Homo sapiens: one gene and its partners. The protein of the gene in region 3 interacts with the protein of the main gene of each other region in a pairwise test. Each region holds a gene or a part of one and is shown on either strand. Other genes may lie near its edges.

The links. The genes of interacting proteins can lie anywhere in the genome.
Region 1: the proteins of PGBD1 (region 3) and ZSCAN18 interact in binary tests that used the Homo sapiens proteins (3 or more experiments, as listed by UniProt).
Region 2: the proteins of PGBD1 (region 3) and NR4A1 interact in binary tests that used the Homo sapiens proteins (3 or more experiments, as listed by UniProt).

The regions. Positions count from the first base shown.
Region 1 is NC_000019.10:58,094,473-58,102,746, forward strand, and holds the start of ZSCAN18 (zinc finger and SCAN domain-containing protein 18), read right to left. Parts: upstream 3,760-8,274; 5' UTR 3,702-3,759; exon of another isoform or gene 3,458-3,701; intron 1-3,457. UniProt on the Homo sapiens protein: May be involved in transcriptional regulation.
Region 2 is NC_000012.12:52,054,112-52,060,762, forward strand, and holds the end of NR4A1 (nuclear receptor subfamily 4immunitygroup A member 1), read left to right. Parts: intron 1-215; coding exon of another isoform or gene 216-217; coding exon 218-1,093; intron 1,094-1,918; coding exon 1,919-2,048; intron 2,049-2,382; coding exon 2,383-2,534; intron 2,535-2,945; coding exon 2,946-3,148; intron 3,149-3,240; coding exon 3,241-3,419; intron 3,420-4,576; coding exon 4,577-4,833; 3' UTR 4,834-5,392; downstream 5,393-6,651. UniProt on the Homo sapiens protein: Orphan nuclear receptor. Binds the NGFI-B response element (NBRE) 5'-AAAGGTCA-3'. Binds 9-cis-retinoic acid outside of its ligand-binding (NR LBD) domain.
Region 3 is NC_000006.12:28,298,182-28,303,748, forward strand, and holds the end of PGBD1 (piggyBac transposable element-derived protein 1), read left to right. Parts: intron 1-2,542; coding exon 2,543-4,103; 3' UTR 4,104-4,368; downstream 4,369-5,567.

The sequences.
Region 1 (8,274 bases), on a different chromosome or scaffold from region 3:
AAAGGGCCAGACAGTCTCAGTTTCAACTACTCAACTCTGCCTCGTGGCAAGTAAGCAACCAGAGCCCTGTGCGTACCCACAGGTTTGGCATGTTCTTATGCATCTTCATTTACAAAAACAGGTGGCCAGGTGTGGTGGCTCACACCTGTAATCCCAGCACTTTGGGAGGCCACGGTAGGTGGACAGCTTGAGCCCAGGAGCTCAAGAACAGCCTGGGCAACATACCAAAACTTCATCTCTACAAAAAATAGAAAAATTAGCTAGGCACAGTGGTGCATGCCTGTGGTCCCAGCTACTCTGGAGACTGAGGTTGGAGGATCACCTGAACCCAGGAGGTCAAGGCTTCAGTGAGCTGTGATCACAACACCACATTGCAGCCTGGGTAACAGAGTGAGACCCTGTCGCAAAAAAAAAAAAAAAAAAAAAAAAAAAAAATTAGCCAGGCGTGGTGGCACACACCTGTGGTCCCAGCTACATGGGAGGCTAATGTGGGAGGACCCCTTAATCCCAGGAGTTGGAGGCTGCAGTGAGCTATGTTTGTGCCACTGTACTCCAGCATAAGCGACACAGCAAGATCCTGTCTCTAATGAATACAAACAAAACAGGTCACTGCTGGCCTGCAGGTGGGTACGCTAACCCCTGTTCTGGAGCCTCTCCTGATGGGAGGCGTGACGCCAGCTCTACCCCCTGGCAATGGAGGCACAGAGCTCTACTTGGTGCATGGACAGAGGTGTGGTCCTGCAGGCATGTAATTTTGGCTTTCTTAGGACGCCAGAGGCTTGTTCACCTTGCAGAGAACCTGTCTCCACAAAACAAACTGTGAGCTCCATAATGTGTGTGCACAGAACCTTCCCTCATCAGAACCTCACAATCCCAGAGGGGTAGGAACCACATGCAGCCCCAAGGTGCAAGTGGGAAATAGAGGCACGAGGCAGGCAATCACTAAGGCTGGGACCCCACCTGCAAAGTGACGCTGCCACTCATCCTTCCCCGTCCAGGCCCATAAGCCTGCCCTTTAAGAGGCCTCCTGCCGGCCCTCCCCTCTAGCCCTCATGGCCTCCACAGTGGGCAGATCCCAGCCAGCTCCCCCAGCCCCTCTCCTCCTGCTCCAACTTCCCAGCTCTGAGCATGGTGGAGGCATCGGGGTCTAGGTAGAATGAGCAAGGGTCCTCGGCCATTGGCAGGGGCGGGATGACGTGGGGAGGACGGGACACCCTCCGGCTGGGTCACTGGCCAAGACAGTGGGGGACACATGTCAGCCCCTGGGGACAGGAACGGGAGCTCCTCGCCTCTGTGCCCTTCCCCCTCAGCATTACAAGTTGTGAGCCTCTCTGGGAAGCCACCTCTGCCTCCACTTCCTCCATTCACCTGCAAAGCAGAAGCTTCCATGGAACCAGGGGTCTCCTAAAACGCCCAACTCCAAGGAAGCTGCTGCCTCCTGTGAAAACAGCCTCTCCCTGTTCATCTCCCTTCCTACTGGGACCCTGATGCTCACAGCCAGGAGGATGAGGCCATCTCAAGAGCCTCCAGAAATCTCTGGCCCTGTGTCTTCTTGCCTCCTTCAGCCCCATTCCTGGCCACACTGTCAAGAGGACTCTCAGAGATCTCACCGGGGCAGGTGCGGCAGCGTACATCTATAATCTCAGAGCCTGGGGAGTCTTAAGCAGGAGGACTGCTTGAGCCCAGGAGTTGGAGGCTGTGATTGGCCACTGCACTCCAGCCTGGGCGACAGAATGAGCCCGTGTCTCACAAACAAACAAAATAGAGATACCACTGGGACCCTTTCCTGCCACAGCCTGCTTGAATGAGGCCACACCTCGTTGGAGTCTGGCTTGGTCACTGGGCAAACCTCCCTCCCCTAATCTTGGGACTGTCCAGGATTTGCCTCAGATGGGATTTTCCTGGAGCCCAGCCCCCCAGCCTCAGCAAATGAAGCAATCTGCACAAGTCTTGAGCCAGTCCTGTAGGCTTTGCTGCACCCAGAGGCCTGGAATACAGAAGCTGAGGCAGAGAGCTCCACGGTGGGTGAGGGGTGGCTGAGCTGAGGGGTCCCAAGCCTGGTGGGTCTCCAGAGTCCTGCAGCAAATCCCCTTCATCCTGGGCTGAGCAGAGCTCAAGCCTGGTTTGGCCCTCCGTGGGCCCAGCCCTGGCCACCTGAGGAATATTCATCGCAGCTCTCCATCCCACCACACTCATCGGCAGGGTCTAGCAAACCACCCCACAGCCACAGGCCTGAGGATCAGCCAGGGAAGCTCAATGCATGGGATGTGGTTGTTGATGGGTCGCCGGATATTCCCAGGGTCTGCCCTGGCTTCATCCACAGATCACTTACTCATTATAAAAAGGGGTAAAAGTGCTTTTAAAAGAATGAAAAAACATGGAGTAAGGGTCGTCGTTCACATCTCAGCTGCCTTTTGTGGTCCCTGATCCACTCGCCAGGACAGACAGAACCAGAGAGATGTCCTGCGCAACTGGCCTAGGCTCCCCGAAAACCCGAGGCCAGAAATACCCAGGAAGTCACAGATTCAAGCATCATGCACAGAAAACAGCAACTCGATGCGACACGTGGTCCCGCTCTGACTCCAGGGCAGGAAACCATCCGCAGGACATGATGGGATGGGGGAAGTGAAATGGAACCGAGGAGGTGACATGGAACCAAGTGACTGTGCCACTCAGCCTCGCCCAGGAGTCAGCAAGGACACAGGCGAATATATGGGAAAGTGGAAGGAGGGCAGACAGAAATGGGGGAAGCGGGGAGGGAAGGTAGCAGGGAGAGAGAAGACAGGAGAGGAAGGAGCAAGAGCAGGGAAAGCCAGATAGTCTGGACGGGGGTAGAGGGGGATTGGGAAAAGGAAGGAGCCCAGGAGGGTGAGAGAAAGGAAATGGGGAAGGAGTGATGGGAGGGTGAGTCAGGCCCCCACCCCAACCCCCTGGGTCAGGACCGAAGCCAGTACACCCACTCTTGCCTCTTCCACGAGAGAGGTCTCCGGGGTGGGCGCAGACACCTAACTCAAACAGAACCCACCCCCAGGTGACTGGGGAGAGGCGAGATATTCCAAGGGTGGGGGCAGCAGAGACAATGCCCATTCTAGGCACCCCTTTGGTCCCCGCACCCTCCATCCCTTCCCTGCTCCAGCCCCTGGGGCCACAGCCTGCCCAGCGTCCCCCCACCACGGACACCCTCACATCCTCACACCCTCAGCCCCCACTTCCTCCCCTCCTCTTCCCTTCAGGAGCCTCCCCCTCCCTTCTCTTCCCCACTCAGGAGCCTCCCCCTCCCCCTTTTCGCCCCCCTCAGGAGCCTTCCCCTCCCCCCTTTCTCCCCCATCAGGAGCCTCCCCCTCCCTCATCTCTCCCCCATCAGGAGCCGCCCCTTCCTGTTCTCCCACCCACAGGGTGCCCTAAGCGCCTCCCCTCCACGAGCCTACACGGGGTGGGGGTTGCACTAGTTCCCTACCTGCCTGCAGGGCCCCTCACCGATCTGGATCTCAGCCACCTCCGGGGGGACCCGGCCCCTGCCCCGCACTCCACGCGAAGGGATGCCAGACCCTCGGCCTCCTGGACGCACAGCGGGGGCTCGCACCCCAACCCCGGGAACACCCTGGCCCCTTTCCCTAACGCTGCCCACTGAGGCGTCCTCACCGTCTACCCTGTTGGGGTCGCTCTCTGACCCCCGCGCTGCATCCCCGGGACCGACCCACCTGCTGCGCAGCTACCCCAGGCCGGTCCCAGCCGCCCGGAGCCCCAGTGCGCGATGGCGGCCGGCAAACTGCGCCTGCGCACTGGGCCTCACCGCGGACTACGACTCCCACAATGCCGCGAGGCTGTGCCGCGCACCGGGGCGAGCAAGGGAGCCGTGACAGGTGACAGTGCGCATGGCCAATCAGACGCGAGTGTGGCCTCCCGGCGTCCCGCCCACTCCGGCGCCTGCGTCATTTTGGGCACCATGGCAACGAAGTAAACAAGCGGGTAAATAATAGACCCCTGACAGCCAGAGACCCGGAGAAACAAAGACGGTGAGAAACGGAGAAACAAAGACAAAAAGACGCGCAGACCGGGAGGGAGAGAAGCATGAAGGCCCACAGACGCTCGGGGGCAGACCAAGACGCCCTGGGGTCCCCGAAACAGAGATGTACAGAGTCGGACACGGAAAGGGAGAGACCAGCTCACGGTTAAGAAAGGAGGGAGACCAGCCCAGGATCAAGAAAGGGAAAGACCAGCATGGGCTCAAGAAAAGAAAGAGACCAGCTCAGGCTCAGGAAAAGAGAGAGACCCAGAGAAAAGGAGCACTCGAGGCTGAGACAGATCTGGACAGAGATACAGAGACAGGGACCAGCAGACCCAGTACTGGGGAGACAAGAGGTGGAGACCCAGAGACACTGATGCGCTAAAATGGGTTCTACAGTTTCAAGGAGTGGATAGAACTCAAAGATTACCCACCCCAGGGATTCAGGAGCTGCTGAAATGAGGGAAATGTGAGTGGCAGCTGGGGTGAGGGCTTTGGCAAAGCCCCATATAAATGTAGCCCCCCTGGAAGGCAGGATAGGGCCAGGAGCTGCTTCCCATTTCAGTTTTCCAGATAGAGGCGCTTATGAGGATGCCATTTTGGTCGTTTTTGTGTGAACTGATTTTTAAAATGTATATCTGAACAGTTTATATATTTTAAATTTACATACACCACACATTTTGGTATTCAGTTTTATGAATTTTAACTCATATCCACCAACAAACTCGGGACAAAGAATAGCTCCACTGCCCAAAAATCCTCCTGCTGCCTCTTGGTAGTCACTCCCTCCCCACCCATAACCCCAGGAACAGCTAATCTAAGTAGTCCACTGCTACAATTTTGCCTTCACAGTGTCATATAAGTGGGATCATACAGTATGTGGCCTCTTCAGATTGGCTTTTTCACTGAACATAATTCCTTTGAGAGGCATTGAAGTAGTATGTATCAACAGTTCATTCCATTTTATTGAGAAGTAGTATTCTATGGTATATAGCAGTTTAAACCTTCTCCCACTGAGAGATATTAGGATCGTTTTAAGTATTTTGCTATTAAAAATAAAGCTGCTATGAACATTCGTGTACAGATTTTTCTGTGAACGTAAGTTTTCACTTTTCTGGGATAAAAGCCCAAGAGTGCAGTTTCTAGGTCACACAATGAACACGTGCTTATTAGTGTTGTAAGAAGCTGCCACACTCTCATGCAGAGTAGCTGGACCATTTTACACTCCCACCACCAATGAATGTGTGAATCCACTTCACATTTTTATCAGCATTTGTGTTTTGCTATTTTTTATTTTGGCCATTCTGATAGGTATGTACTGATATATCATTGTGGTTTCAATTTGCATTTCCCTTAATTGCTAACAAGTTTGAGCACACTTTAATGATTTTTTTGGCATTTGTATACCCTCTTCATTAAAGTATCTGTTCGTATCTTTTGCCCATTTTCTAATTTTTAAAAAAATTGCTCAGTTTTGAAAGCTATGTTTTTTTTTTTTTTGAGACAAGGTCTCACTCTGTCACTGAGGCTAGAGTGCAGTGGTGCCATCATGAATCACTGCAGCCTTGACCTTCCAGGCTCAAGTGATCCTCACCTCAGCCTCCCGAGTAGCTGGAACTACAGGTGTGCGCTACCATACCCAGCTAATTTTTTTTTTTAAGAGATGGGGTCTCACTATAATGCTAAGGCTGGTCTCAGACCCCCGGGCTCAAGCAATCCTCCCACCATGGCCTCCCAAAGTGCTGGGATTACAGGCATGAGCCACCATGCCCAGTCTTTCCAGTTTATTTTAATGGATATAACTCAGGAACTGCCAAATGGAAGAGATGCACAGCTAAGGTCTGGTCAGGGGCACTGAAGGTGCAGTGCATCCATGTACCGTCTGGGTGAGCCATCCTCCCAGCACTCAGATGTGTTCACCAACCCAGCTCTCTCAATCGTGGGGCAGAGAGAGGGTCCATACCTTCTTTAAGGTGACTATCCCCATCCTGAAGATATCTATGGGTCCCACTGGAGTCACCTCATTAGCATAAACTCAGGTGTGGTCGAAACGGGCTCCTTATGAATTGCAAACCCTATTCCTATTATTCACAAAATTCCAAGGCTTTTAGCTCTGTGCCAGGAACCAGGGATAAAGATCAAATGTAAGGGCCAGGCGCGGTGGCTCATGCCTGTAATCCCAGCACTCTAGGAGGCCAGCGGGCGGATCACGAGGTCAACATGGTGAAACCCTGGCTCTACTAAAAATACAAAAATTAGCCAGGCATGGTGGCAGGTGCCTGTAATTGCAGCTGCTCGAGAGGCTGAGGCAGCTTGAAACTGGAAGGCAGGGGCTGCAGTGAGTTGAGATCGCACCACTGCACTCCAGCCTGGGCAAAAGAGCAAAACTCCATCTAAAAAAAAAAAGAAAAAAGATGAAATGTAGGTTTTATTACACCACAGATGGCCAATTGTTCTTGCACCATCTGGAAAAGGCTATCTTTCCTGCATTGAATAGCTTTTGCTCCTTAAAAAATCAGTCAGGAATATCTTTGCAGGTCTATTTCCGGGTTCTCGATTCCGTTCCACTGATCTATGTGTCTGCCAATACCACATTGGGTTACCACGGCTACAGAGTAACAACATCAGGTGCAGTTATTCCTCCCACTTTTTTTTTTTTTTTTTTTTTTTTTGAGACAGAGTCTTGCTCAGTTGCCCAGGCTGGAGCGCAGTGGCGCGATCTCGGCTCACCGCAAGCTCCACCTCCCGGGTTCACGCCATTCTCCTGCCTCAGCCTCCCGAATAGCTGGGACTACAGGCGCCCGCCACCATGCCCAGCTAATTTTTTTTTTTTTTTTTTTTTTTGTATTTTTAGTAGAGACAGGGTTTCACCATGTTAGCCAGGATGGTCTCGATCTCCTGACCTCATGATCCACCCGCCTTGGCCTCCCAAAGTGCTGGGATTACAGGCATGAGCCACTGCGCCCGGCCACTTTTTTTCTTTTTCAAAGTTATTTTAACTATTCCAAGTCTTGTGCTTTCCCATATACTTTATCTTCTTCTTTTTTTTTTTTTTTTTTGAGACAGAGTCTTGCTCTGTCACCCAGGTTGGAGTGCAGTGATGCAATTTCAGCTCACTGTAAACTCTGCCTCCTGGGTTCAAGTGGTTCTTCTGCCTCAGCCTCCTGAGTAGCTGGGATTACAGGTATGTGCTACCATGCCTGGCTAATTTTTGTATTTTTAGTAGAGACGGGGTTTCACCATGTTGACCAGGCTGGTCTCAAACTCTTGACCTCAGGTGATTCGCCCACCTTGGCCTCCCAAAGTGCTAGGATTACAGGTGTGAGCCACCGCACCCAGCCTTTTTTTTTTCTTTGTTTTTTGAGACAGAATCTCACTCCTAACCATGCTGCTAATATTTACATGGTCCTGCACCAGTGTGTTCATGTAATTTCACATAACTTTTTTCTTTAATTAGGGTTGAGTTTCCTATATAGGCCTTCTAAGCAGCCAGAGATCACACACTTAAATGAGCACCTATTAGCTTCCAGGCATATTATGTTTTCTTTTATAAATAAAAGCCTCAAAATGCACACATGCATACACACACACACGATTACTGACCAAAAGGTATTTCAGTATAAAAGCTAGAGTAGAAGCTCCATAAGGACGGTGACTTTTCCCTGTTTAGGCAGCTTACTAAAAAACCCCATATACTCAGCCGGGCGCAGTGGTTCACGCCTGTAATCCCAGCAATTTGGGAGGCCGAGGTGGGCTGCTCACGAGGTCAGGAGATTGAGACCATCCTGGCTAACACGGTGAAACCCTGTCTCTACCAAGAAAATACAAAAAAATTAGCCGGGCATGGTGGCGGGCGCCTGTAGTCCCAGCTACTAGGGAGGCTGAGGCAGGAGAATGGTGTGAACCCGGGAGGCAGAGCTTGCAGAGAGCCAAGATCACGCAACTGCACTCCAGCCTGGGCGACAGAGCAAGACTCCATCTCAAAACAAACAAACAAACAAACAAACAAACAAACCATATACTCTTCTGTGCTGTTTGGCTTCCCCCCACATTATGAACTTTAAAAATCTTGCAATAAAATAACAATTATGGCTGACACAGGCTATAAGAAAGAAGGCAGGTAACAATGATTATTCAGCAAGGTAGGAAGGACTACAATGGCACACAGACTTGCCATTTTGTACTGCATCGGATATGTCAATGTTAATTGTCATCTCAGCAACAAGATTTTTTCCTTGAGAGTTGTATTTCTCCTCAAATGGACTCTC
Region 2 (6,651 bases), on a different chromosome or scaffold from region 3:
GGGCCGCTGCCCAGGGGCTTTGTGGCACCTAGGTCGAGATGGTACTCAGGCCAGGGGTCAGGATTCCTGGGTGCTCTGGTCCCGGTGCCTCTGTCTCATCTTTAGGCTGGGATTCCTGCCACCTTGCTGCTCTGGGGCCCAAATACTTTGAGACAAGGCTATAGGCTTGTCCCACTGACTCTCCTTTCCCTCCCTGGGGTCTCCTCTCTCTCCAGAGATGCCCTGTATCCAAGCCCAATATGGGACACCAGCACCGAGTCCGGGACCCCGTGACCACCTGGCAAGCGACCCCCTGACCCCTGAGTTCATCAAGCCCACCATGGACCTGGCCAGCCCCGAGGCAGCCCCCGCTGCCCCCACTGCCCTGCCCAGCTTCAGCACCTTCATGGACGGCTACACAGGAGAGTTTGACACCTTCCTCTACCAGCTGCCAGGAACAGTCCAGCCATGCTCCTCAGCCTCCTCCTCGGCCTCCTCCACATCCTCGTCCTCAGCCACCTCCCCTGCCTCTGCCTCCTTCAAGTTCGAGGACTTCCAGGTGTACGGCTGCTACCCCGGCCCCCTGAGCGGCCCAGTGGATGAGGCCCTGTCCTCCAGTGGCTCTGACTACTATGGCAGCCCCTGCTCGGCCCCGTCGCCCTCCACGCCCAGCTTCCAGCCGCCCCAGCTCTCTCCCTGGGATGGCTCCTTCGGCCACTTCTCGCCCAGCCAGACTTACGAAGGCCTGCGGGCATGGACAGAGCAGCTGCCCAAAGCCTCTGGGCCCCCACAGCCTCCAGCCTTCTTTTCCTTCAGTCCTCCCACCGGCCCCAGCCCCAGCCTGGCCCAGAGCCCCCTGAAGTTGTTCCCCTCACAGGCCACCCACCAGCTGGGGGAGGGAGAGAGCTATTCCATGCCTACGGCCTTCCCAGGTTTGGCACCCACTTCTCCACACCTTGAGGGCTCGGGGATACTGGATACACCCGTGACCTCAACCAAGGCCCGGAGCGGGGCCCCAGGTGGAAGTGAAGGCCGCTGTGCTGTGTGTGGGGACAACGCTTCATGCCAGCATTATGGTGTCCGCACATGTGAGGGCTGCAAGGGCTTCTTCAAGGTACCGCGCAGCCCCAGGTGGGGCCTTTTGTTGGAAATGGAGAGAGGCTGGCCTCATCCCATTGGGACCTGTGGTCTCCCCCTGGGTTCTCCTCCTAGCTAAGTCCTGTCCTGCAGGGTGGGATCAGCCCTGCCAGGTGGGCCGCCTTCCTGGAGACCCGTAGATGCCAGGGCTGGAAGCTTTCATTTGCCGGGACACTCGGGCCCATGGGATTGCACAGAGCTGGAGGGAGGGGTGAGATAGGGGCAGATAGGAGCTGCAGGGGTGCCTGGCGAGCCTCTGGTTTTCCTCTGCTCCTCTGCCTGTCCTCTCCCAACTCAAGGTTCTAGTGGGAAGGGGTGCCCCCAGGCTCTCATGTTCCTGGCGTGAGATGAAAGGATCCCTGCGGAGGGTTTGGTTCTTGAGGGCTGGGGGTGGACTTGGGAACAGGCTGTGTGTTTGTCCCAGCGATGGTGCCTGCTTAGCTTCCCGTCCCCACCCCCCAGCCCCTTGGCCCTCTCCTGTCTGCCCTAGGGAGAAGGCAGGTGGACAAGGGCCCATGAAAAAATACAGGTGTCTAGACTGCCAGGGAGACCCTGGCCCCCAGTAGTGTGTCCTGGGGACTTCCTCAGAGCGAGAAACCTCCCCCAATGTCTTCAAGACTTTTCTCTCCCCCCGCCCAACCCCGTCTCTCCCTCCCTTGCCACCCAAATGTTAGAAAAATAGCTGTGAACAGAGAGCGCTTTTGTCTGCAATGGCAGCAGGATCTGGACGGTCCCCTCCCCTAAGTTCCCCCCTCCCCACCCCACACTCTGACAGCTTGTTCCGTGTTGCCCCCCCACCCAGCGCACAGTGCAGAAAAACGCCAAGTACATCTGCCTGGCTAACAAGGACTGCCCTGTGGACAAGAGGCGGCGAAACCGCTGCCAGTTCTGCCGCTTCCAGAAGTGCCTGGCGGTGGGCATGGTGAAGGAAGGTGTGTGGCTGGGGTGCGGCCCAGCGGGGCAAGGGTAGGCTTGAGTGGAGTGGGACCAGCAGGGCCCCCAGGCTTCTGCCCTGGAGGACCCAGAGGAGGGCACGTCTTATTTCCACCCCACCTCTGAACCCCAGGCCTTGGAGGGAGGCAGCCTACACCTGCCTGGATTGTGAGGGTGGTGGCAGGGGGAGGTTCCTATAGGGTACCTTGGATCTCAGGGACTCTGGGTCCTAGGGACTCGGTGGGGCGCGTCTCAGCAGTGGTGTGCACGGCTTGGGCTGAGAGGCCCTTCCTCAGATCCCTTCCTTCCTCACCCCTACCCATTCCTTTGCAGTTGTCCGAACAGACAGCCTGAAGGGGCGGCGGGGCCGGCTACCTTCAAAACCCAAGCAGCCCCCAGATGCCTCCCCTGCCAATCTCCTCACTTCCCTGGTCCGTGCACACCTGGACTCAGGGCCCAGCACTGCCAAACTGGACTACTCCAAGGTGAGGTCCCACCCCGTGTCTGCCTTGGGGAGGTCTATGAGCACATGCAGTGCCTTTGTGCGTGTTAGGAGAGCTACCCCCTCTGGAAGGACTGAATGAGAAAGGAGGTTTAAAAAAGAAAGAAAGAAAAGCGACTCCCTCCAGTTCGACAGATCAAAGAGAGGATCCCCCTCTCGGCTGACCAGATGGGAAAATGCACCCCCTCAGGCAGGTGGCCAATTAGAAAAATATGTCCTTTTGGCAGCTGCAGCCCTGGGTTAATATGTGAGACTTGGCAAGTGAGAGCCTGGGCAGGATCTCAGATCCACTCCCACTCCCGGGATCTGGCATCCAAGTGTCTGACACAGCCATACGTGGCAGTGGGTGTAGGAGCCTGCCTGGGGTGCTGACCCCACTGGACCGTCTTCCTAGTTCCAGGAGCTGGTGCTGCCCCACTTTGGGAAGGAAGATGCTGGGGATGTACAGCAGTTCTACGACCTGCTCTCCGGTTCTCTGGAGGTCATCCGCAAGTGGGCGGAGAAGATCCCTGGCTTTGCTGAGCTGTCACCGGCTGACCAGGACCTGTTGCTGGAGTCGGCCTTCCTGGAGCTCTTCATCCTCCGCCTGGCGTACAGGTGAGAGCCACTGACTGTCTGCCCAGCCCCTTTCCCTGATACACCTGCCTGTGAACCACCCTGATCGCTCTTCGTGCCCATCTGCCTGCCAGGTCTAAGCCAGGCGAGGGCAAGCTCATCTTCTGCTCAGGCCTGGTGCTACACCGGCTGCAGTGTGCCCGTGGCTTCGGGGACTGGATTGACAGTATCCTGGCCTTCTCAAGGTCCCTGCACAGCTTGCTTGTCGATGTCCCTGCCTTCGCCTGCCTCTCTGCCCTTGTCCTCATCACCGGTGAGTGACCAGCACCACACCAGGTCCAAGGGAATGGGCGTCAGGGGGTTGACTGGTTCTCAGGAGGGCACTGTCCCAGGGAGTTTGGTGGGCCGGGATCTAGCACTTTCTGGGCCCCTGCACTGCCCCGGGCTCATGCCAGCAGTAAAGTAGGGACCATAGGAATTGCAGATGGGCTCAGCTGCATCCAGCTCTAAAGCGCAAGACAGCCTTTGGTCCCAGACTGTCAGGATCCAGACTGCAGGTGTCATGTATGTGGCCTAGGGTATTGGCTTGTTTTTAAAACCTTCCTGTCAATTATGCTGCATATAGAAAAGTACACAAATGGTAAATTTTCATAAACCGCACTTACCCAACCAGCGCCTTGGTCAAGAAAGAGCACATAACTGCCCCCCAGAACCCATTATTGTGCCCCCTTCCAGTCATTTGCCCTCCCCAAGGGTAACCACTACTTTTTATTTAAATATTTTAAAAATAAGATGGGAATCTCACTATGTTGCCCGAGCTGGTCTCGAACTCCTGGGCTCAAATGATCCTCCTGTCTCAGCCTCCTAAAGTGCTGGGATTACAGGTGTGAGCCACCACGCCTAGCCCTTCACTGTGACTTCTGACAGTGCAGATCAGATTGGTTGTGCCTGTTTTGGACTTTATGTAAATGTAGTTCTGCAGGATGGAATCTGGTGTTGAATGCAGAGGTTTTCAGATTTCTCTGTTTTTTAAAGGAAAGAATCCACCCTCGTTCATTTTTTCACTTAAATTGCACAGGGGACCCAACGATATAGAACACAATCAGAGGTACTCTGGGCTGAGGGAGTGCTGAGTTCTGAGGCTGGGTTTCTCAGAACAGTCTAGATTTTAAAAACCCAATGATCTAGCCAGAAAACGTAGGTTAGGATTTTATTTCCCGTTTGTGACCCTGGGCAAGTCATTAGCCTCCTGGGCCTCGGGTTCTCACTTGGAGTATGAGGATAATGAGGGTTACTGCTTCTCAGACTTGTGACGATGCTTACTAATGGCCAACATGTGAATGCGCTTTTGTGAAGTGCCAGCAGAGCATGAGGGGTGGTCAGGGGCAGCAGTTTTAGGGGCCTGGGGGAGGCTGGGGCTTTGGGGGCCTGGTTCTCAGATGTACAGCTAATCCTGTACCCTTCCCGCAGACCGGCATGGGCTGCAGGAGCCGCGGCGGGTGGAGGAGCTGCAGAACCGCATCGCCAGCTGCCTGAAGGAGCACGTGGCAGCTGTGGCGGGCGAGCCCCAGCCAGCCAGCTGCCTGTCACGTCTGTTGGGCAAACTGCCCGAGCTGCGGACCCTGTGCACCCAGGGCCTGCAGCGCATCTTCTACCTCAAGCTGGAGGACTTGGTGCCCCCTCCACCCATCATTGACAAGATCTTCATGGACACGCTGCCCTTCTGACCCCTGCCTGGGAACACGTGTGCACATGCGCACTCTCATATGCCACCCCATGTGCCTTTAGTCCACGGACCCCCAGAGCACCCCCAAGCCTGGGCTTGAGCTGCAGAATGACTCCACCTTCTCACCTGCTCCAGGAGGTTTGCAGGGAGCTCAAGCCCTTGGGGAGGGGGATGCCTTCATGGGGGTGACCCCACGATTTGTCTTATCCCCCCCAGCCTGGCCCCGGCCTTTATGTTTTTTGTAAGATAAACCGTTTTTAACACATAGCGCCGTGCTGTAAATAAGCCCAGTGCTGCTGTAAATACAGGAAGAAAGAGCTTGAGGTGGGAGCGGGGCTGGGAGGAAGGGATGGGCCCCGCCTTCCTGGGCAGCCTTTCCAGCCTCCTGCTGGCTCTCTCTTCCTACCCTCCTTCCACATGTACATAAACTGTCACTCTAGGAAGAAGACAAATGACAGATTCTGACATTTATATTTGTGTATTTTCCTGGATTTATAGTATGTGACTTTTCTGATTAATATATTTAATATATTGAATAAAAAATAGACATGTAGTTGGAACTGAGATTCAGTCTGTCTCTGATGCCCCCTCCCCACTCCCCCACCAGACACACCCCATCATTACATAAGAGATGGGCTGCTCAAGATGAAACTTGGATGTTACCAGCCTGAGCTGTCAGGCCTCAGTGTACTCATTTGTAAAAGGCGGATAATAATGACACCTGCTTCACGAGGTTGTTATGCAAAGCACTTAGACTAATTTCTAACACGTGGGAAGCCTGCATTAGCTGTGCCTGGCTAGCTGTGCCTGGCTCATTGCTGGGGTCTGCAGTGGCTGACTAGCCCAGGGGTCACTGCAGGGCCCTAGCAATAGACTTAGCCGCAGATCTCAGGGTTGTCATGTTTCCTAAACTGGACATATATTCTCTGATTCTTGATTTCCACATCCATAAAACAAGAATAGACCCAGCCTCACAGAGCTTTTACGGTCAGAGGAGTGTGTGTGTAATGCTTAGCATGGGCTGGGTTTAAGTAAGCCCAAATTGGTAGTAGCTGTTACATTCAGGGTTTTAACATCCCCATTCTCAACATTCCTCCCCACTCTCCTGCCACCCCAGCAAGAAGATCCAGGGATCTGGCGGCCCTCACCTTCTCGGCAAGAAGATTGTACTGAAGTCCCTACCTGTGCCCGTGTCCCCACGTAGGCCCTCCAACCCCCTAGGCTCGTCAGTTGTTTAGTCAGCTGGCTTAAAATGCAGATTCCTGGGATCTACCCCCAGAGACTCAGATCTGGGGAGGTGAGGGGGCCCCAAACCTTCAGTTCTAGCAAGTACCCAGGTGCTTGTGATGCAGGTGGCCTGGGGCCACCCTTCTGAGAAACATGTGGATGGACCTAACCTGAGGCCCATGGGAGTTGGTCATCATGCAGGGTCTGGCACCTTCCTGTGCTCGGTGCTCACCCAGCCTCACTGTTTGCTTCTCTAGGACCCAGCAGGAGGCCTGAAGGCAGTGCCCTCACACGTGTTCCTCACAGCCCTTGGCCCAGGACCCCCCAAGTCTCCACCTCCATGGCTCCTGGGAAGTGGCTGGCTGAGGGGCAGCTCCTACTGGATGGGGCCCGACAGAATAGGGCTCTCAGCTGTGGATGGGGGGAAGCAGGGGCCTTCCCTGGTGCTCCAGCCACAGCTTGCAGGGAGCCCCCATCCACATACCCTCACTCAGGTTCTGGGAGCACAGTCCAGCCTCAGGCCTGCTGAAGGTCCGAGTGAGGCTGGGGTAGGGAGACCACGGTCCCGACCCTGGGACATGCTCCCAGCAGT
Region 3 (5,567 bases):
ACAAAACCTTCAGTTGATACTCAGTTTCCTCCAAGAAGCCTATCCTGATCCAGTCTGTCCTGCTTGATTACCCTTCCCTGGGCTCCCTTACATTTTTATGGAGCTGTGGAGAAGCTAGAAGGCAGATAATTTAACAAGAATGAGGGCTACAGATGAAGCTGCCATGACAGTTAAGAAAGAAATGTCAGAGTGGAAGAGGACAAGCAGGGTACAGGTTGAGCATTCCAAATCTGAAATGTTCCAAAATCTGAGCTGTTTGAGCACCAGCATGATGCTCAAAGGAAATGCTCATTGGAGCATTTTGGATTTTGGATCTTTGGTTAGGGATGCCCAACTGGTATAATGCAAATATTCCAAAATCTGAAAAAAATCCAAAATTCAAAAATCTTCTGACCCCAAGCATTTCAGATAAGGGAAAATTAACCTGTATTTTCAACCGCCATTGGGAGACCTGAACAAGGTATAGGTCAAAAGGAAAGTTAGCTGATGAAGTAGAAATGAATGACAGTGGTGTGTGCTTCATAAGTGCTGGTTGTGGGAATGAATGAACTTGTAACAGATACTCCTATGCAAAGCAAGAAACTTCTGAAGAAATGGAACAAGGTGGAGAAGCCTCGGGAATGCCCAACATTCCGAGGCTTCTCAGGATTGCAGAAAGAGAGGGAACAAATCACAAGCAGAGGGTTGGCTTCTGGTGAGGCCATTTGGTCCTCAGAGACTTGAGAAAAGAGAGAGTAAGCAAGGTGGGCTACTTGGCCAAAGAGCTGAGAAGGGGGTGTGAATTTTCCTTATTGACATTTGTTTAACTTAGAGAAACTGGGAGCTAAATCTCAGCTAAAGTAGAAATGTCTTAAAGCTCAAGAGGAGAAGTGAAATTTTGCATTAAGATTAGTGAAGACTGAGCCAGGCTCCACTAAAGGAAGAGATATGATGTTCAGTAACTTAGAGCAGAGTTATGCAACTGGAGAATAGGAATCTGCTATTGTGCCTGTAGGTACATTTAGTATCAGGCAACTAACAGGTAATTCATAGTGCCTATAATAAAGATATTCATATAACAAAAAGTGTGAAGGTAGGCTATTTCAGGTTAGGTGCAATAGCTTAACCATGGTATCAAAGGTCTAGCCCCCTGCCCTCCTTCTAGTCCCCCTCCCTCACCCCCACCCCACTTTCTTAGCTCACTCTTTTTTCCCATTTCTCACTCCCATTTCCTTCCCTCACAATATTGGGCTTAATGCACTGTGGTTCTTAGAGTTTAGATGTCAACAGTAGAAAGACTCAGTGTGATCAAGGAATGTCACTGAAGTTATGGATGTCAGGGAACTTTAAGATGGATGTGTTGAATACATGCAGACACTGAAGACACCCTGGATGATAAACACTTTACATAAAGAAATGTATGTAGTGTAAATTATATTAAAATATACTCTTCATGCTTCTTAAATGTCTTTGAAAACTTGACTAGTTTACCAACAGAACACTAATAAATTAAATGCACATGTCTAAAAATTAAAAACTTTGTGTAAAATAATACTTTTCAGTTGGGTGCAGTGGCTCATGCTTGTAATCCCAGCACTTTGGGAGGCCGAGGTGAGTGGATCACGAGGTCAGGAGTTTGAGACCAGCCTGGCCAACACAGTGAAACCCTGTCTCTACTAAAAATACAAAAATTAGTTGGGCATGGTGGCACGTGCCTGTAGTCCCAGCTACTCGGGAGGCTGAGGCAGGAGAATTGCTTGAACCTGGGAGGCAGAGGTGGCAGTGAGCTGAAATCATGCCACTGCACTCCAGCCTGGGTGACAGAGCTAGACTCTGTCTCAAAAAAAAAAAAAAACAAAACAAAACTTTTCATCTTTGTAACTTTAGCTTACTTCCTTGTAAACCCCATAAAAATCAGTCCAAGTGCAATGAGTTGAGTTTCATTTGTTTTTCCCCAGAGTAGTATGTCCATCAGATGAATGTAGAACTAGCAGGGGCTAAGTCCTTCCATGTTCAGAAATTCTGTGAGAGATGTCAGAAGACCTGGTAAATAATAACCTTTTTTTCTTGTTCAGATTCAGAACCAATTGACAGGGATGCAGGAGTAAAATAGATGGTTCTGGAAACCTCAGTTTCTTACTGACAGAAGTTAGACTGGATAAAAACGGCTTAAAGGCAGAGCTAAATAGGCTTGTACTGGCAGAGGAGGAGTGTAGCAGATGTCCCTCTGCATAGGTCTTCTCAATGCAACTTGGGGCACCAAGGAGCATGGGATGTCTGCATCCTGCTCCTAAAGAGGACAGAGGGAGGAGTGTACCAAGGATACTCAGTTATTTCTCCCAGGCTCAACAGTTAGTTCCATCCTGAGGAGTGAGTGAGAGGTGGAGAGTGGCTAGAAATGTTTAATCTAGCCAAAGTCCTCCCCATGGAAACTTAAGAGAAATAAGTAAGTATCCCCCCACACCCACCCCAAGCCCCAAAAGATTTAAGCTTCAGCAGATTTATCATGTGTGAGAGAATATGATTGAGGATTTTTATAACATGTTCTTTTTTTCTTTCCCAGAGAGTGTGCACCCCAGATTCCTTGTAGTACTCCTATTGCTACTGAAAGGACAGTTGCACATTTGAACACTCTGAAGGACCGTCACCCAGGTGATTTGTGGGCCCGCATGCACATCTCATCCCTGGAATATGCTGCAGGAGACATTACCCGAAAAGGGAGAAAAAAAGACAAAGCTCGAGTGAGTGAACTGCTCCAAGGCCTCTCATTCTCTGGTGACTCAGATGTGGAAAAAGATAATGAGCCTGAGATCCAGCCTGCTCAAAAGAAGTTAAAGGTATCATGTTTCCCAGAAAAGAGTTGGACCAAAAGAGACATTAAACCCAATTTTCCAAGCTGGTCAGCACTGGATTCTGGACTTTTGAATCTCAAGAGCGAAAAGTTGAACCCAGTAGAGCTTTTTGAATTATTTTTTGATGATGAAACATTCAACTTAATTGTCAATGAAACCAATAATTATGCTTCTCAGAAAAATGTCAGCTTGGAAGTCACAGTTCAGGAAATGAGGTGTGTGTTTGGTGTCTTACTTTTGAGTGGATTTATGAGGCATCCTAGAAGGGAAATGTATTGGGAAGTCTCTGACACCGATCAGAACCTGGTTAGAGATGCAATCAGAAGGGACAGATTTGAATTGATTTTCTCAAACCTGCACTTTGCAGATAATGGCCACCTAGATCAAAAAGATAAGTTTACAAAGTTGAGACCTCTCATAAAACAAATGAATAAAAATTTCCTCTTGTATGCTCCCCTGGAAGAATACTATTGCTTTGATAAGTCAATGTGTGAATGCTTTGATAGTGACCAATTCCTGAATGGAAAGCCTATTAGAATTGGCTATAAAATTTGGTGTGGTACAACCACACAGGGTTATCTGGTTTGGTTTGAACCCTATCAAGAAGAATCAACTATGAAGGTAGATGAGGATCCTGATCTTGGGTTAGGTGGAAATCTAGTGATGAACTTCGCTGATGTTCTTTTAGAGAGAGGTCAGTATCCCTATCACCTGTGTTTTGATAGCTTCTTTACAAGTGTCAAATTGTTGTCAGCCTTGAAAAAGAAGGGGGTGAGGGCAACAGGAACAATTCGTGAGAACAGGACCGAAAAATGTCCCCTTATGAATGTAGAACATATGAAAAAAATGAAGAGAGGGTATTTTGATTTCCGAATAGAAGAAAACAATGAGATAATTTTGTGTCGTTGGTATGGGGATGGCATTATCAGTCTGTGCTCCAATGCTGTGGGCATAGAACCAGTCAATGAGGTAAGCTGTTGTGATGCTGATAACGAAGAAATCCCTCAGATAAGTCAACCATCCATAGTAAAAGTGTATGATGAATGCAAGGAAGGTGTAGCTAAAATGGATCAAATTATTTCGAAATACAGGGTGAGGATAAGAAGCAAGAAATGGTACTCAATTTTGGTGAGCTACATGATTGATGTAGCCATGAACAATGCATGGCAACTACACAGAGCCTGTAACCCAGGTGCTTCTCTAGACCCCTTGGATTTTCGGAGATTTGTTGCACATTTCTACTTGGAACACAATGCTCATCTGTCAGATTAGGGTACATAAAATGGACATAGTGCAGACATTAATAAGACATAGAAAAATAATAATTATACATGCTGTTGTACCCTCCCAAAGTAAATCTGATATATGTAATGAAGTTATTAAATAATACTTTTAAAAATCAGACATTTATATAGAGTTTCAAAGACTATTGTAACAAGTAATGTTAAAAATTGTCTGTGAGAATGTTGAACTGTAGTACCTTTCTCTATGTCAAGTTTTGTGTCAGACATGGGAAATCATGTATTTGTTCAATTGACTACTTTGTGCACTTATTTATTTATTTTTTGAGACACAGTCTCGCTCTGCGGCCAAGCTGGAGTGCAGTGGCACGATCTTGGCTCACTGCAACCTCTGACACCCTAGTTCAAGCGATTCTCCTGCCTCAGCCTCCCAAGTAGCTGGGATTACAGGCACGTGCTGCCATGCCTAGCTAATTTTTGTATTTTTAGTAGAGACAGGGTTTCACCATGTTGGCCAGGATGGTCTCGATCTGACCTCGTGATCTGCCTGCCTTGGCCTCCCAAAGTGCTGGGATTACAGGCGTGAGCCACCATGCCCAGCTATTTTGTGCATTTAAAGAAGGAAATCCTACCTCTTAAAAAAAATTATCTGGAGAATGCCATTTTTAAGATGCAAGCAATGTTACAGAAACCATAGAATGGTGCTGACTCAATAGTTCAAACTAGTGACACAGCCTATGAAGTAAGAATGATCTAAACAAAACATAGGTGGTAAGAGACTAAAAACCTTAGCATTGGTGTAAAACTGGATCGGATTGTGTGTAAGTGAGAAGGGTCAGGCATGGATATTGAAGGAGAGTGCTATAAAGGAAAAACCAGAGGTGAAGCAGTGCCTTTGAATATTGAAATGATAGGTGTATCCTATGGTGACTGTGTGAGTTGGCAGCAGAAGTCAGAAGAGTAAAGAAAACCAAGGAAACAGGCAAATCAGGGTAACAAGTAACCAGGAGAGTGAAGGAAAAGATAGGCATAAAGTCAACATAAAGGCCAAGTTGAAATCACCTGAGGAGATGTCTAGGCTTAAGGCCATCAGTGATAGGTAACTGAAGGAGAAACACTTGGAAAAGTGAATGATACGGACTGTGACTCCTTAGTGTTGAAGTCTAGCATTGGTGGATTAGTCTGGAGGGTAGAGAAGACAGGCTCCACCTCATTTCTGTGAGTTGTAGCCACAACAGCTCTTTGCCTTTCTTTCATATCCTAATATTTACAGTCCCTTTCCTGGCTGGAAGGCAGGTGGTCAGGTTTGAATTCTTTCAACAGGTATGTTTCTTATGTGGATGACTGGTGAAAGTGTAAGCTGCGTGTAATGTAGTCACAGATTCACCTATTCCATGCAAGATGTTCAAAGAAAATATAAGTTCATTATTTCCTGTAATTGATCTGATATTCTTTGTGAAATACATCACCAGCGTGGGTTGGTTTCACTTTTAAA